2 linked regions of the Homo sapiens genome follow. The protein of the gene in region 1 interacts with the protein of each later gene in a biochemical or structural test. Each region holds a gene or a part of one and is shown on either strand. Other genes may lie near its edges.

Region 1 (9,024 bases):
CCCCGGGAAGCTGGGGAGGTGGGGTGCAGGACTCCTGGGTCCAATAAGGCCTGACTCAGCAAGTGACCCCGGCTGAGTCACTTCCCCTGGGCAGCCTGCCCGCCTCAGTTTCCTTGGGAAGGGTGGGTAGTGAGGAATGGGGCCTTGCAGGGAATGAGCAGCTAGCACTGCACCTCTGGACTCGCCGAGGCAGGCGTCTCCGGTCTGCCAGACGGCAGCGGCTTCCTGCCCTGCCTCGTCAAAGATGCTGAACGCCCGCGGGCCCTTGGGGACCGTTTTCCCAGGAAACCTGGCAATTAAGTGCCAGCCCCTATTGGGCATGAACAGCAATGGCTTGCACTTATTGAGTGCCAATTGCATGCCGGGCACTGTGCATGCCTCCTTTTCTCAAAACCACCCTAACAGGGAGTTGGCAACCCCCCTATTTCATAGACAAAAAGACCTGTGGCTCAGAGAGGCTAAGGGACCAGCCCAAGATCACACAGCCAGAGCAAGTACAGCCAACACAGTTCCAGTCCTGACACTGTACTTCACACACCCAACCCTGGGGAGGCTGGAACTCTTGGCTTCCATCGGGCAGGCGAGGTCCAGATCAGAGAAGCCAGGTAACCTGCCTAGGACCTCACACCTGGAAGCTGGCAGAGCCCAGATTTGGCCCCAAAGTCCATACTGCTACCAGGGAGAAGTGGGAATTTAGCAGGAAAAGCCTCTTGTTTTATTAATAGCAATAATATCTACTATTGTTAATTGAGTGCCAGGCTCAGCGCTCAGTGCCTTATGTGCCATGTCACAGCAAGTGCACAGCTGTTAAAGCCTTTCACAGATGTTGTCTCAATTGCCTCAGAGAGCTTAAGTGATCAACCCAAGGATCCCCAGCAATGGGAGACCCTCATGAACACCAGCCCTCAGAAGGGTGTGGGGTCATGTAAACTGGGTCCCAAAGGTGTTTCCAGCAAAAGGAGCTGTATTGGCCCAGACTGTGGGACAGCTCCCTACTATGTCCCTGAGACCCCCTTCACTGACCCTCCCCACCTTGGCTGGGGAGGGCACCCGGTCTCCCCTCACCACAGACAGGTGGCACTGAGACTGGCAGCGAGGAGGTCCCTCCAAGTGCCTCCAGCTCTGCTCCACCTGGGATATGGAGAATGTCTGGGGGTGGCACAGCGGGAGCCAGAAATCCAAGGGCCCAGCAGTCCTGTGGGATCTGATTTGTACTCAAAAGTTCTATTTATCGGAGAAGGAGGATCAGGCCCAGGTTTGAGAGGCATGGGGGTGGGGGTGGGGGGATGAGGAAAGAAAGCCAGCAGAGCTAACACCCACAACAAAAAAGATCATTCCGGCCCCAAGGCTACTTCTTCTCTTCCTCCTGACCAAGCCACTCTGGACACTGTGAATTCACTCATTCATGGTTCCCATGACTCTAGGAAGTAGGTACTATTAGCACACCCATTTCACAGATGAGGAAACTGAGGTGGGGCAGTTAAGCAAGGCCTTATAGCTAAGGAAGTGCCCAGATCTTCAAAATTCTGCTCCCAAAGACCCAGGAAATTCCAGTGCTATGTATGCAAGAGATGCTCAAGGGAGACTACTGAAGGAACACCTCATAGCCAATAACAGTAACACTAATGAAGGCAATGATAAAATCACCACTACCACCACCACCACCTGCAACTGAACCTCTCTTTGCCAGGCAGCAGGTGCTCATTACACACTGGCTCATTAAATCTCCACTGCAAACCTGTTACTCCCCCATTTTACACAGAGGGAAACTGAGGGCAGAGTCACTTGCCCACGCCTTCAGCTGAACGAAGGCAATAGGAGTAGCAAAGCACAGTCTCCAGGACCCTCCTCACTATCCTCCTCCACTTCCTGCTGAGCCCCTGCAGACCCTGAGCCCCCAGCTGCTGATGCTCTGAGCCAGCCCCTTCCCAGCTGGCCGCTCTGTGGCCCACAGGGACTCACAAAAGTTCTAGGAATGCTCACCCTTTGGCTCAGAAGGATTTTCCCTCCCAGAGGGGGTAGTGGGAAAAGGCTCAGGAAAAGTGCACTAAAAACCCTTCCAACTTCCCCCAGTAGGCCCTGGCTCTCATCCTCCGAGCCCAGCCTGCCCAGGTGGCCTCTGACGGCTCTCCCTCCACGAGGGCAGGTCCCGAGGAGCCTCCAGAGCTGTTTCCACTCAGGCAGCCAGGTCAGTGATGGGAAACCCAGACACAACCTGCGCCTGCATCCCTGGAGACCCACAGGCCCACTGCCCTGGCAGGGGCCCTGAGGCCTGGCTGCTAGCCGGTGTTAGGGAACTGTCATCTCCCCGGCGAGGGGCTGCGGGTCAGATCTCGGTCCCTCCTGCCACCAAAGCTGGCCTTGCCGACATTGCCTTGCCGGGGCCTCTGCTCTGAACCCCCCACCAGATTTCACTTCCTCCCACTCAGCCCAGCCTGGCCGTGCCCCTCCCTGGAGGCCCCCAGCTGCAGGCAGTGACCTCCTCACCTACATCATTGTGGCTGGGAATGGGGAAGAGAAACAGGAGAATGAGGAAACTAAAGAAAAAAAGAAGCGGGACAGGCAGGCAGACCCTCCTCTCCAGTTCCTCAAATGCAGTCCCCCTCCCTCAAAACAAAGCTCCCCTGGCCGGAGGGAGGGAAGGGAGGGAAGGGGATTTCTGCACCAGGCATCAGAGACCTCTGAAATACCATCCCTACCGTGCGGATCTAGAAGACCAACACCCACTCCAGACGTTTTTTGGTCGGGGGATTCCCAGGGAACCCCAGGCAAGAGGTGTGAGAGGATCAATACCAGAAACCTGTCTCTGGGACGCCTAGCCCTGGTGAACCGCCCAATTCAGCAGCATGCGGGGGCCTGGCCCGGTCGACCTCGGCAGTGCAGGAACTGGGGAGAGGGGCTTCCTGAATCAGGGCGCTACCCTCTTAGCCACATGGCCCGGAATGGGGAGTGGGGAGGGGCCGGCGCATCCTCCCCCGCTGCCCCCACACCCAAGGGCTCATCTGTGCTCACAGCCTCAGTTTGACTACTTTCACTTTCAGGGTAGCAATGGGTGACCCCTGACCGCTCCTCCCCAGGCACAAGTTGAGGGGAGGGCCGCCCCCAACCGGCGAGGCTACCGTAGGGTGGGCTGGGGGCGTCAGCGATGCCCTCTCCCCCATCCCACGGCCTCAGTTACCCCAACGCTCTCCCTAACACGTGTGTGGGTGGGGGTAGTGGCTGAGTGGGGGGTCGTAGGCGCTGGGAGCCGTCACCCCGGAACGCCTCCATCCGAGTTGGCTGCAGGGCAGTATTTTGGGCTGGGGGTGACGCGCAGAGCCCGGGCAGAACTGGACACGGGGCCTCCTCTTTCCCCACAAAAGCCCTCCCGGCCCCGGAGGAGGGGAGCGCGGGCAAACGCGGGCTCACCTGAGAGACAGGAGCTCTGGGCCCGGCCGGCCCATGGCGTCGCGCGCCCCCGGGCCCTCGAAATCCCGAGGGGGCGGGCGGGCCCCCGCCCTGGGCGCGTCCTCTCCCGCCCGCCGGCTCCTCGCTCGCGGCTCGCTCGAGCGGGGCTCAGGCAGGAAACCCGGGCTCGGAAAATGGCCAGCGCCTCATCATTTCCGCCGCCAGCGCTTGACAGTTGCGGGAGGATGCGCCCCCGGGCCGCCGCCGCCGGGGAAACTTTGCAGCGGCCGCCGTCGCCACCGCGGGCCGCGACAGTCCGGGCGGGCAGCCGGGCGGAGGCGGTGGCCCGGGCCCATGCCGCCCCGCGCCGTTATGTAAAGAGGAACCGGCCGTGCGAGCGGAGCCCGGCGGGGGAGGCCGGCCGCGACAGGGGCGGGGCAGGGGCGGGGCCACCAGGAGCCACGCCTCAGGCCGCGCGCGAGTCGGAGATTCGGCTGGAGGGGCGGGCCATGAGGGCGGAGCCCGGACTGGCCCCGCCTACCAATCCCGCTAGTCCGCGGCTGCCAGGGTCGGAGGGCTCTCCTGGCGCGGGTCCGGAAAAAGGCGAGGCCTTGCGAAGCCACGCCCACCACGTGCCCACCCGATTTCGCGTCCCACAGTCTGAAGATAGAAGTGAGGATCGGAGGGGCGGGGCGACTTTAGCCCCACCCACTCAACGCCGGCAGGTCACCAGGTGCCTCAGCGCCTGGAGGCGGGGCCAGATGAAGGGGCGGGGCCTAGGGCGGGCAGGGTCGAGGGGCCTGGCCTCCAGGGGGCGCGCCCTTGCTGACTCCCTCCTGCAGGGCCTTATCAGTGCCCGCAGGGCTGGGCGGTGCAATAGCGACCACGGCTTTCATCATCGCCCCAGGGAGGGAGCCCAGCCCTGCCCGACCCTGACTATCTGCGATCATGCTGACCCGACCCGCCACGGCCCCAGGCCCCCGATTTGGGTTCTGGCCCCAGCCCTCAGCTTTGCCTTTGCTACAGCCGGTGCCCGTATAGCCCAGCCTCGCTCCGGCCGCCCGTCCTGTCCCCCAATTCTAGGAGGGGTGCATCTTTCTCCAGGAAGCCCTCTCCGACCGCTGGCTTCCGTGGCCTCTGCGCCCACCCCCCTGCCCGCCCCCGGGCTACTTACATTTTCTCCACGGCCTCATGGGGAGCTGAGACGGACAGTGGGGTTCCCCCTAGTCCGGAGTGGGACATGCTCTCAGCCAGCCTCTCCCCCAACATGTGGGAGGGCGGGGAGGGAGGAATGTACTCTTCTCCCCCTCCCCCAACAGGAAACAAGTCGCCCACGCCCCCAGCTTGGAGGGGCCACCTCGAGTCTTCCCAGGCAGCAAGTGTCTCCATTCCACTGCCTCCCCCTCTTCCTACCCGGGCAAATGACTTGACTTCTCCGTACCTCTCCACTTCCTTGCCTATGAAATGGAAATAATGTGTACCCACTCTCCTGGCAGTGAGAATTAAGTGAGTTAATGCATTAAAGCAGTTAGCTCGAGGCTTGGCTCCAGGAAGCTCTCTGTGTTAAACAAATCGGCCCCAGTCCTGACCTTAGAACTACAGGAAGGGGTTCCCCAGAAGGTGGGGATTTCCAGACTCCGAGTAGATGGGGGAAGGGAGCGGTCTGCTACAGGATTCCTGGTGTCCAATGACCTTGAAGAAAAAGGCCACAAAAATCTGCTTTCCGCACATTTCCAGGCACTGTTCTAGGCGCTGGGAACACAGCAGTGAACAACACAGATATCCCTGCCTGCGTGGAGCTGATATTCTAGTGGGGGGACATAAGGCACGAATAAGCAAGTGGGATCAGCTATGACAATGACAAAACAGTTACGGGATGGAGAGCTGGAAGGGGATGTCTTAGATCCAGGGCTCAGGAAGGACACCTCTGCGGAACTAACATGTGAGCTTAGAACCCTCCATGACAAGAAGGATCCAGGTGCTATAACGTCTGAGGGAAGAGCATTCCAGGCCAAAGGAACAGCATGTGCAAAGGTGCTGAGGTGGGAATACATGTGGTGCTTTGGAATAAAGTCATAAAGGCAGTGGTGACACCTATACTGGTAAGAGATGATGTTTCAAAGGTGGGCCCATCACATGGTGTCTTGAAGGTCTTGGTGGGGACTTTGGGAATTATTTTGAAGGCAGTAGGGTGCCATGGAGGGTTGTGAGGAGAAGGACCTGTGGAGTGTGGGATTCAAGCTGTTCACACGGCATCTGAGGATGTGGGAAGAGGGGTGGGGTGGGGGAATGTCAATGAAGTCTAAACGAGGCCGGGTGTAGTGGCTCACACCTGCAATCTCAGCACTTTGGGAGGCTGAGGCCAGCGGATCACCTGAGGTCAGGAGTTTGAGACCAGCCTGGTCAACAGGGTGAAACCCTGTCTCTACTAAAAATACAAAAATTAGCCAGGCATGGTTGCACGCACCTGTAGTCCCAGCTACTGGGGAGGCAGAGGCAGAAGAATCGCTTGAACCTGGGAGGTGGACACTGCAGTGAGCCAAGATTGCATCACTGCACTCGAGCCTGGGAGACAGAGGTAGGCTCTGTCTCTAAAAAAAAAAAAAAAAAAAGTCTGAATGGATCATCCCATATTATTTGATCACTTTCTTATACCTGGGGACACTGCGGCCAAGAGAGAACAGTTACTTGTCTGTAGCCATGCAGCTGCCAGGCAGCACCCACAGAGCAGCCCGGTACCCAGCCAATGCCAAATGGCTGCTGAAATCTGCCAGCCACAAGCACTTTCCCTCTCACTGCCCAGACAGCAGCTCTGCTGACTTAAATTGGGACTTGTGGTTCTTCCCCTTTTTAATCACGGTTCAAACCTTCTCGCCTGCCAGATTTCTCGGAGGCCCAAACTGGTTTCCTTCCTCGCTTAGTCGCTTCTTGCCCACATCCCCGCCAGAGTCCAGTTTTTTGTTTTGGCGCTCGCTGAGACCCCAAGACTTCTCACTTTTTGTGTTTATTTTCCCTTGGAAAGGCAAAGGGATTCCAACAAATAACCTTCCCATCACCGTGCCCAGATTTGAGAGTGCCGCTGCCACGAACACAGCGAGGTCGTCGTCGCCACTGGGAGGCCGGCCAGCCACGGCTCTTCCCACTCGGCAGGTCACTGGGACCTAAGGAGAGAAAGGGTTATTCAAATTCCCATGACTGATCCGTAGCTCCCGGAAACAAGCCAGGCCGTCTTAGGGGAGCAGGTCCAACCGCCCTTCCTTCTTGCTGTGAAAAACACCAACACCTCCTGCTGGCCAAGTTCCAGAAAGCCGGAGACTCACAGGATTAATAACAATTACAGGCCACGCGCGGTGGCTCATGCCTGTAATCCCAGCACTTTGGGAGGCCGAGGCAGGCGGATCACCCAAGGTCGGGAGTTCGAGACCAGCCTGACCAACATGGAGAAACCCCGTCTCTACTAAAAATACAAAATTAGCCAGGTGTGGTGCCGCATGCCTGTAATCCCAGCTACTCAGGAGGCTGAGGCAGGAGAATTGTTTGAACCCGGGAGGTGGAGGTTGCGGTGAGCCGAGATCGTACCATTGCACTCCAGCCTGGGCAACAAGAGTGAAAATCCGTCTCAAAAAAAAAAAAAAAAAATTAAAAAGATAACGATTACAACACGAGTCAACAGCAATAAATTAACAATGATCAATGCTATTAATATTCATATTAGCAATTCGTATTAATAATAATTTAAATAACAACAAAAGTTAACTAGTACAAACACAAATACATGATAAGTGCTTGAGGTGATGGATACCTCATTTACCCTGATGTGATAATTACACATTGCATGCCTGTATCAAAATACCTCACATACTCCATAAATATATACACCTACTATATACTCATAAAAATTCAAAAAGTGGGCCAGGCGCGGTGGCTTAGGCCTGTAATCCCAGCACTTTGGGAGACTGAGGCGGTGGATCACAAAGTCAGGAGTTCAAGACCAGCCAGGCCAATATGGTGAAACCCCATCTCTACTAAAAATACAAAAATTAGCCGGGTGTGGTGGCGGGTGCCAGTAGTCCCAGCTACTCGGGAGGCTGAGGCAGGAGAATCGCTTAAACCCAGGAAGGGGAGGTTGCAGTGAGCTGAGATCACGCGACTGTGCTCCAGCCTGGCAACAACAGAGCGAGACTCCGTCTCCAAAAAAAAAAAAAAGAGTTCTCTGTTCTGTATCTCCTAGCTGTGCAGTCACATAGATTCTCTGGGCCTCAGTTTCCTCATCTGGAAAATGGGGACAGTGACAGGACTGACCCCATTGGGTTGAGGGGGAATTTGATGAGAAAACTCACATTGAGGGCTTAGGAGTGGGGGAGGTACCTCCACATAGCAACGACTGATAAAGAATGTTGAATATAGTGCAGGCTCGGTGGCTCATGCCGGTAATCCCAGCACTTTGGGAGGCTGCAGCAGATGGATCACCTGAGGTCGGGAGTTTGAGACCAGCCTTGTCAACATGGTGAAACCCTGTCTCTACTAAAAATACAAAAATTAACTGGGCGTGCTGGTGGGTGCCTGTAATCCCAGCTACTTGGGAGGCTGACGCAGGGATAATTGCTTGAACCTGGGAGGCGGAGGTTGCAGTGAGCCGAGATTGCACCATTGCACTCCAGCCTGGTGACAAGAGTGAGACTTCGTCTCAAAAAAAAAAAGAATGTGATTATAATCTATGATTGGGTGTGAGAGTCCCGTGTCCCTCGAGGGTTGTGAAGAGGAGTGGCCACAAAGACCAGTCCTGTAAACAACAGAGCTTCACACCCCTTTTACAGATGCAGACACTGAGGTTTGAGAGCAAAGATCTTGCCCAGGGTCACCCAGCCAGAGTGGAGGCCTTGCTGTCTGCATTTGTAAAATGTGCTTCTGCAGGCCTGGGCCACAGGCGAGGAGGAGGCCCGGGGACCTGGCCTGGCCTGGCCCCCAGCTGGGCAATGGCTACTGCTGGTGTTTCCCATGCCCGAGTTTCCATCACGGCACTGCTGTGCAACCTCCAAAGGTCCCCTCTTGCCACCAGCAACAGGCTCCCACTTTCTGAGCCTCAGTATCTCTGGCTTGTCAAATGGGCATGATAGTAGTTGGGTGAAGGGAAATGACATTGTGTAGGACACTTTGTCCCTAGTGGCCTTCAGTGAATGCACAGAGTGCTGAGCATTATCAAAGGACACTGCAGCACACTGGGCTCCTCCTGGCTGTTCCTCAAACTCACCTTCATGCTCCCACTTCAAGGCCTTAGCACTGGCTGTTCCCTGTGCCCAGAATGCTCTTCCACCAGATGTTTTTGTTTTGTTTTGTTTGAGACGGAGTCTCACTCTGTTGCCCAGGCTGGAGTGCAATGGCTCAATCCTGGCTCACTGCAGCCTCTGCCACCTCCTGGGTTCAAGTGATTCTTCTGCCTCAGCCTCCTGAGAAGCTGGAATTACAAGTGAAAGCCACCATGCCCAGCTAATTTTTTGTAGTTTTAGTAGAGATGGGGTTTCACCATGTTGGCCAGGCTGGCCTTGAATAGCTGACCTCAGGCAATCTTCCCGCCTTGGCCTCCCAAAGTGCTGGGATTATAGTCGTGAGCCACCGCGCCCAGCTGTCTACCCTTGC
Region 2 (8,055 bases), on another chromosome or scaffold:
CAGAATGGTCTACCACGGGCTTCTGTCGGTTGGGGCTGCAGTTTGCTAAGTTGGAGTAAATCTGGAGAAAACAAGCCCATAGTCAATACAGCAGTCCCTACAACGAACATAGCAACAAAAGGCATACTTACAGTGTCAAGATCACAACTAACTGATGGAAACTCTTAAGAGAGAAGTGGTTTCCAAGAACTTTGTGGCCAAAACCCAAGTCATACTGACAAAACAAATATAAGCTTTGTTTTCCCCCTTCATTTTTCCAAGGAAATAACTTTATACAAGAAGTGGGGACAAAACATGCACAAGCTTAGCTCTTCTAAAAGGGCACACCAGGCACCAAGCACTATCTTACCTATTTAAAAGGCTTGTAAATCTCTCCAGCAACTACAACCCAATAACCAATGTAATTTGCTGGGAAACCCACGGCCCTTCCAGGGGTCTCTTGTCAAGAATCAAAGCAACTGGGTGGAAAATGCTGTTCAATTTGAAACATGTTTTGACACCCAGAAGAACAAGCTTTAACCCAAAAATTATCAGTGGTGTGCTATTAGGAAAGAAAAGATAGCTCCAAGCACACAGCCCAGGAAAGAAAGCAGCTTAAAAAAATCTGAGTCAAAGTATCACTAATTCTTGCTTAAAAAGAGAGGAAATAATGGATTTGAGTTTTCATTCCCCCACACTTCCCAAATCACTGGGAGGGATCTCCCAACTTCAAACAGCTCTTCATTCTATATGGCTTGTGGGCATGACAGCTATCTGCCATTTTCTGGCTATGCTTGTTTGATCAGAAGGCTTATTTCACTGCAGTAACAAGCTGTCTTTTCTATGCTTTTATTCTAGTTCACATCACCCCAACCCTCCAAAGGATGCATGGCCCTGACATGTGAGAGGGAGAAAATACTGACCCCGTGACCAGCATTTGAGATGAGGGAGGAAACATGGCAAATCCTTATGGAAACTTCTACTTCCAGTGAGTACAAAACTCTCCACCCTTCCCCCTCAATCTCACATCCTTCTTTGGCTCAGAACAGGAGGGCTGGGCAGAAAGAACTAGTTTCCATTGCTTTACTTCCCCTACCTGAAGCCCAATTTGCAACCTAAGATTAGGAGAGAAGGGGTTGGGAGGTTAGTCCTCACCCTGAAAGCCTGAGGAGGAGGACACACCTGGAACTGGGAGAAGGGGGATTCTATGCCTGGCCAGGGTATACTCACATGATTGGTGCTCTCTGAAATCTGCTTCTCAATTAGCTGAACAATTTGCTTGAATGTTGGTCTTTTTAGGGGATCTGCATCCCAGCAAGTCTTCATTATGTCATACCTGCAAGACAAGGGCCATTTACTATCCCTCCTCAATGCCCTCAGCTTGTTTTCAAATGTATGGGCATCCAGCAACTTCAGTAATAATTCCAGGGCTATGCAACTGGACATATGGACTGACATATAGATAACATAAAACACTGCATGTATGAAATATTACTGAAACTTTCTGTATTTTTGGTGACAAGAGATTATGAAAATAAACTACAGAAATGACATTTGACCAGTGTGTCATAAAGAATCCAAGTGACATTTCAAACTGTGTTATGAAAACCCTCAACATCTGGGTTTCTGTCTCTAAAAAGAAAAATAAAAGGGAAAACGTGACCTAAAGGAAAAATTTTTTGGCTCTTACATTTCAGCAGGTGCGTGTTCAGGGCTGAGCATCCGGAAGCCTTCCTTGATCATCTTGTAGAACTTAGAATCGACCGGCATTCCAGGATAGGGGCTGCTTCCTGAGACACAGTTTGCAAAGCAGTGTTAATCACAAGGAAGCAGGACACCAATGAAACTTCAAGAAGATGCTCTGAGTCTAATGAAGTTGTCTTTGGCAAGGATCATTTTACCTAAAGAGAACAGCTCCCAAAGAAAAATCCCATAGGACCAGACGTCACTTTCAAACGTGTATACACAGTTGAAAATGCTTTCAGGTGCCATCCACTTCACAGGTAGTCGAGCCTGTAATAGAAGCACAACAGAGTCAATAATGTTAATTCAGAAGCTCAACAAAATTGAACAGAAGATATTCTTATAGATGCTGCTGTTGCTGAAATGTGGAGTGATAACTTGAGTACCATCTCACAAAAACCTTTTACCTATATGAACTCAGATGATCCCAATCACCTCTGAAATACATGGCTCACAAGTGCATTATCCCCATTTTAAGATGTGAGCACTATGTCAGTACGGCATGGAGATTAAGAGCACAAACGTCAGAGACAGCCAGACATTTTAGCCCTGGCTCCACCATGGGCCTTAGGTAATGCAGAGATTTGTTAGTTTCCACTGAATATGTCCCTCTCCTTCCTTAAAAACAGAAACACGGCCTCTCACAATTAGGACTACATTTCCCAGCCTCCTTTGCAGCTAGCTAGCTGTAGTTAGGTGACTCGGTTTTGGCCACTAAGTTGTAAGTGCTGTATAGCAGCTTCAGGAAAACCTCCTTACAATATAGCTGGCACGTGCCCTCTGCCCTCTCTTCTCTAGTGCAAGGGCCCCCTGCCTTCTGGATATGATGGCTGGCTATCCACCTGGTGGTCATCTTGGACCATGGACATGGGGGTTACACTCAGGAATGGCTAAGCATGGAAAGGAAAGACTTGCCCGGGTACTCCATGGAACCTTTATACCAATCCTGGTATAAAGTCTACTCCTAGACTTCTTTTATTTTGGGTTTTCTGTCAAAACCCAAAACTTTCTCTAATACACTGGGAAAGTCACTAAAATATTTGTAATTAAGCCTCAGTATCTTCTTCTGTAAAACAAAATGAATACTTTTAATTTTATGAATTGTCTTGTGGGTTAAATAAGATAAAATGGGTAAAAATGCTTAGCACCGCCTGACTCAGTGCTATCTGAAAAATTGCCTAGAAGAAAGGCAAGTACTTGATAAACAGTAGTGGCTTGTGATCCTGACTCTTTGGAGAACTCTCTCCATTAAAGTTGAGCTAAACTTTCTGTAACTAGTCCTTTTAGATGCATTCTGGATTCCCAATCTTAATCTGCCATAAAAAGCTAAATCAATCCTTCTCTTAATCCATTTAGGATTGAAAACTGGGAAAGCTTTTTTTTTTTTTCTTTTTTTTTTTTGGTGTTAAAGTTATTTTAGTCAGCTTACAAAAACAAAACAAAAAACTTCCAATATCCCTTCCCTTCCTAGATGTTGTGCTAAAGTTCCTATAAGGGCTCCTAACCTGAGATCTATGGGTGTCAAATTCAGGGGCCTGTGAACTTGGAAAGGAAAAATGACATCCTTATTTTCGCTAATTTCTAGATGAAATTTAGCATTTCTTTAAATTACTAACAAAGGTGATAAAACGCAGTAGTATCAGCTGTACCTGTGACTTTGTCATGAACAGTAATCATAAATATCTTCATATCCTATTAAGTCTTTATAGGTATCTCAAAATCATATTTACATTAATCACCACTCTAAAATTACAGTGGTTTTTAGAAAAAATAGCAAAACCCACAATTACTTTTACACCAACCTAACAGAGCCTGTTACACTCTATAGTAAACACATGTACTGACATATCACAAATTTACTTAGTATCTTCATAGCTATTTCGATTTAACTGTTTTCCTTGGTATTCCTATGTATTTCATCATAGGCGTTGAAAACAGTGTTCTGATAAGGGTCCCATAGGCTTTACCAGGCTCTAAAAGGGGCCATGACATGAAAAACAATGAAGAACTCATGTGAAAGGAAAGAACTTCAGAGAACCTGACACAACAAGGAGATCTCAAATGATGATGACAAAAATGTGGGGCGGTAACATATATGAGTTTCCTTCTTCTTATCTTGTTCCAGAAATTCTCCTTACCCACTAGCCTGGTGAAAGCGAGATCTGTGATTGGTTAGTTCAACTGACTTGAACTGGAGTCTACAATCTGGAAGCCTGATAGAGCCAACCCCTCTTTGTCATTTCAAACTAAGGTCACTAACCAATAACAAGACAGTATGTAACCACCGTCACGATTATTTAGATCGTAAATAAGACATCTATAAAGAATAGTAACAATATGTCTGGCACTGTCATAAGCACTTTACATATATTAACTCATAACTTTCTGAGTCAGGAATCACTATTATTCCCAAGGGGAGAAAAACAAAGATTCAGAGGTATTGGACAACTCTTGACAAAATTACACAGGCATGAAATAATGGAGACAGATTGCAGAATTCATCAAGACTGGGCCTGGAGGCGGCCACCTTCTTCCTCCTCCCTTTGGTCAATATTCAGAGGACTGGATAATTAACGACTTATCATTCTTCCTTCCAAAATTGCACCAGGATGAAGAGAAGTTGTTTTTATTATCACTCCTGATGATAATATCTAGCTTCAGGGCAGCCTTTTCAGAAATTCATGCTTTGGCCAGGAGATAAACACAGAAACACTCTTACAAAACCAAATCGAGTACAGGCTACCAATAGAGACGCCACAGTGATGGGGGGAAAACATTACATTATCATAAGGGGCACAAAAATCCACCTCCAGGAATAAATCTGGACTGCAGAAATGGGCCCAGGAAGACAGGCAGAGAATATTATAAAGGGCAATATGGTTTTCCATGGCGATGGGATGCCACTCTGGAAATCACAGGCTCTAGTTTCAGCCTCTATTGTCCTGTGTCACCTCAGATAAAAAGCACTAAAATATGCCATGCCTTAGTTTCTCCAACTTTTAAAATAGGAAGGTGCTGCAATTATAGGACAAGGGTTTGTTCTGAGGATTCAATAAAAATTGGCAAGGAAATACAGCACTTTGAAAAACATTTGCTATGTTCTACAAACCCATTATTACTTATGAACCTATTTAATAGCTCTCCGTGTATTCTAGGATCCAACATTCTATATGGCTAACTCTGAATATGATCTTAGATTTTAATATTTTTCACACGGCATGCCAATCCCCCCAAAATTTCTCCTGCTGTGACCTTCAATGACCTACATTTGTTACACTTGAGCAAAATCAAGTTCATTGCTATTCTCAGGCTATAATGAAAATTAAGGCTATTTCTGTTTCCTTCACATGCCCCAAAATTACACAATTAGAATTAGGACTTCTATTATTGAATGTTAGTTGTAGTAATGTTCAGCATACCATGCAAATTTTGCTGAAGTATACTTAATTTGACTGCTAAAATGTGTGATATCCCTAGACAGGATTTACATTATGAAAATCACAGGAAACAATTTTTATCGAAAGTTGAAACTAAAAATCCTTTGCAGGACTGTCAAGCAGAGAATGGGTACTCACGTTTCCTTTAACCACATAATTAGAATCATTCTTGATGTCTCTGGCTAGACCAAAATCACAAATCTTTGTGATCCGACCATGAGTAAGGAGGATATTTCTGGCTGCCAAGTCTCTGTGAATACACTATTAGGTTGGAGGAGAAAAGAAAACCATTTAAATTCATTTTAACTTGTAAAGAGTGAAAACTAACTTTTTAATACTATAGTGTTGCTTATATTATAAAAAATCCAATACTTTTGTTTTAAAGTATTCAGTACACCAAAAATAAAAATCAAAAGTACGCCTTGAATGATGTTCACATAATCAAGAGTCTAATTATTATAATCTCTTTTAAAAGCAATTCTAATAAATGCTGTTTTCTTCTCAGGACTGCTTTCATTCATAGGGAAATACATAAGAAATAGTCATATCATATTGTTTAAACTGAAAATTCATTTTGCATGCATCTCTTTGAATGTCCTTTCACAGAGTTCCTAATATGCCTTTGCAAATTCAATCTGACATCTCCCAAGGACACACGGAAGAAGGTCTTTATTTCAGCCATCTTATATCCTTTCTTAGTTTGGTAATTGTTGGGAAATGTCACCCATGACATTTAAGGGTAGGACTGGTAACTCATTCTGTTCGGTTAATCTTACTTCCTAAGGAACTCCTTTCACCCTTCCACAGACCATGCTCCTTGTTTTGGTTCCATCATTCTTTCCATTCCTAACCTTCTCCCAAGTGTTTATTACTCCCTCTGACCCCTTATTTCCTGACACTTCATAAGCCACACATATAATATTTGGATCTAACTTCAATAAAACTCAAGTCTATGCTTCACCCCAAGCCTTGTAACTATGAGGTGCCCTCTGCTTTTACTGATAAAATGATTCTGTTCTCTAGGAACATATCCTATATCCTAAAAGCCAAAAGTTTTAAAAGAATTTCACTGCATATAAAAGAATATTCATAGAAAAACTCATTTAGACAGGCTTGTACTTTACAGCTTATAAATTAGAACAGGAATTCCAAAGAGACAGCAGTTGGAACATGAAGAAACTAAATTTCCTCTGCTTTTGGTTACCACACTTCAAAATGACATTCTGCATTTTAACTATGGCTCTAAAATGCTCTGTTCTCAAAAAAAAAAAAAAAAAAAAAAAAATCAAAAAAACAAAACACAAAACTCTTTAGAGAATCACTCCCACTTACATTCTTGGAGGCGAGGAAAGCCATGCCCTTTGCCACCTGGTAAGAAAAGCTCAGCAAGTCTTCTAAGTCTAGGGCCAACTCGTCATCCTCCATGATGGCGGGAGTCACATCTCTTTCTATGTATGAGCCTGTGAGGAAGAGAGGATTTTTCTTAGCAATTACAACCATAAAGGTCAGGAAAGGAAAAGACAGTGGCAATGACATACCAAAGGCTGGTAATGAATGAACTAATGTGAACTTGCAGGCAGATCACTTCCCTGGTGTCCAGGAAAGGTAGATGCTGAATCACAAAGTTAATATTTAACAATCCTAGGCTGGGTTACAAAATCCATAGAGGAGAGGGATGGCGAATTAAAGCAAAGATCCCATATCTATAGAAAGATACTCAGGCACAAAAACATATGCTCTGACCCCAAACACCCACTTGCAACCCTAACTGCCATTGACCATTGGCACTGCTACCATAAAGCAGAACTGGTCTGCATCATTGCTACTGGGAATGATGTTATATTCCACATTAGCATGATATACATACTCTCTGTAAAGTTACTCTTGGTTGCTTGATAGGTAGGTACTCACCTATTCTCACAGATCTCCTTTTGTCGGCCTTGGTTGGGACAACATAAGAAACTCCAGGTTTCATGTCCATGTACTCATTAGTACTATCGCTGCTGGGAGAGATGAAACAAGTCATGACTGAATCAAGTGGGACATGTAGAAGGGCACTCATGGGTCATGCTCTACCTCCTCATCCCCTTTGCTACATAATAGACTGGACCAATTTGAGGAAAGTCATGTAAAGTTTGAATAAAGAGTTTGAAAATCCTGTTCTGTAAGAAATGAGTTTTTAATAATCGATATTGGGGTCCATGCCCAGAAACTAGGTGTCCTTTTTGTGTATAATCATATAGAGGACTCAGGTTAGAAATTTCCCGTCTCTTGACACAATGAATTTAATGGGAGACAGAGAGCCAAATATGGTATCCCGTATTACCTCAAACTCTCTAAATGAGCCCCAGGAGACAAGATGAAAGAAAGACAAAGAAGAGCTTCCAAGACGTGTTATGCAGGAGGCAGAGATCGTTAACATATAGTGACTGATGGAGGAAGGTTTAAAAAAAAATCAAGTTGGTTCAGATAAACACCAATAATTTGGATGATTTTCTGAACCATCTGGACCTCTTCAATCTGCAACATTTGGCTGGAGACTCTTCAAGATTTCTAGTACTTCCTGCTTCTGATTAGCATAGAAACACCATGACAACAATCTCCTTCAGAGTGTGCTGGTGGTTCCAATCCCATATGGGATCCCAAAGCACAAAGAACATCACACAGGATTGAACAATTTAGGCCATTATATCAGAAAGTTAAAGGATATATATAGGGCCAAGGTTTCGGAAAGAAGCAAAATGGCTCATTTCTTCATATAATGAGCACATGCCCAGGAGAAACTAACAAAAAGTGGTTTTGTACAGTTTCTACTACCACTTTAAACTACTCAAGTTTATAGGATTAAAAAAAAATAAAAAGTTTCACCTGGGGTTTTAAACTTTAGCCAGAGGTA

What was found.
Region 2: the proteins of SH2B3 (region 1) and KIT form a complex in vitro, tested with the Homo sapiens proteins (2 studies listed by BioGRID and IntAct, with this or other methods).

What each region holds. Positions count from the first base shown.
Region 1 is NC_000012.12:111,400,662-111,409,685, reverse strand, and holds the start of SH2B3 (SH2B adapter protein 3), read right to left. Parts: upstream 3,764-9,024; 5' UTR 3,409-3,763; intron 1-3,408. UniProt on the Homo sapiens protein: Links T-cell receptor activation signal to phospholipase C-gamma-1, GRB2 and phosphatidylinositol 3-kinase.
Region 2 is NC_000004.12:54,730,435-54,738,489, reverse strand, and holds part of KIT (mast/stem cell growth factor receptor Kit isoform 1 precursor), read right to left. Parts: intron 7,163-8,055; coding exon 7,071-7,162; intron 6,620-7,070; coding exon 6,492-6,619; intron 5,421-6,491; coding exon 5,298-5,420; intron 1,993-5,297; coding exon 1,881-1,992; intron 1,770-1,880; coding exon 1,670-1,769; intron 1,316-1,669; coding exon 1,210-1,315; intron 62-1,209; coding exon 1-61. UniProt on the Homo sapiens protein: Tyrosine-protein kinase that acts as a cell-surface receptor for the cytokine KITLG/SCF and plays an essential role in the regulation of cell survival and proliferation, hematopoiesis, stem cell maintenance, gametogenesis, mast cell development, migration and function, and in melanogenesis.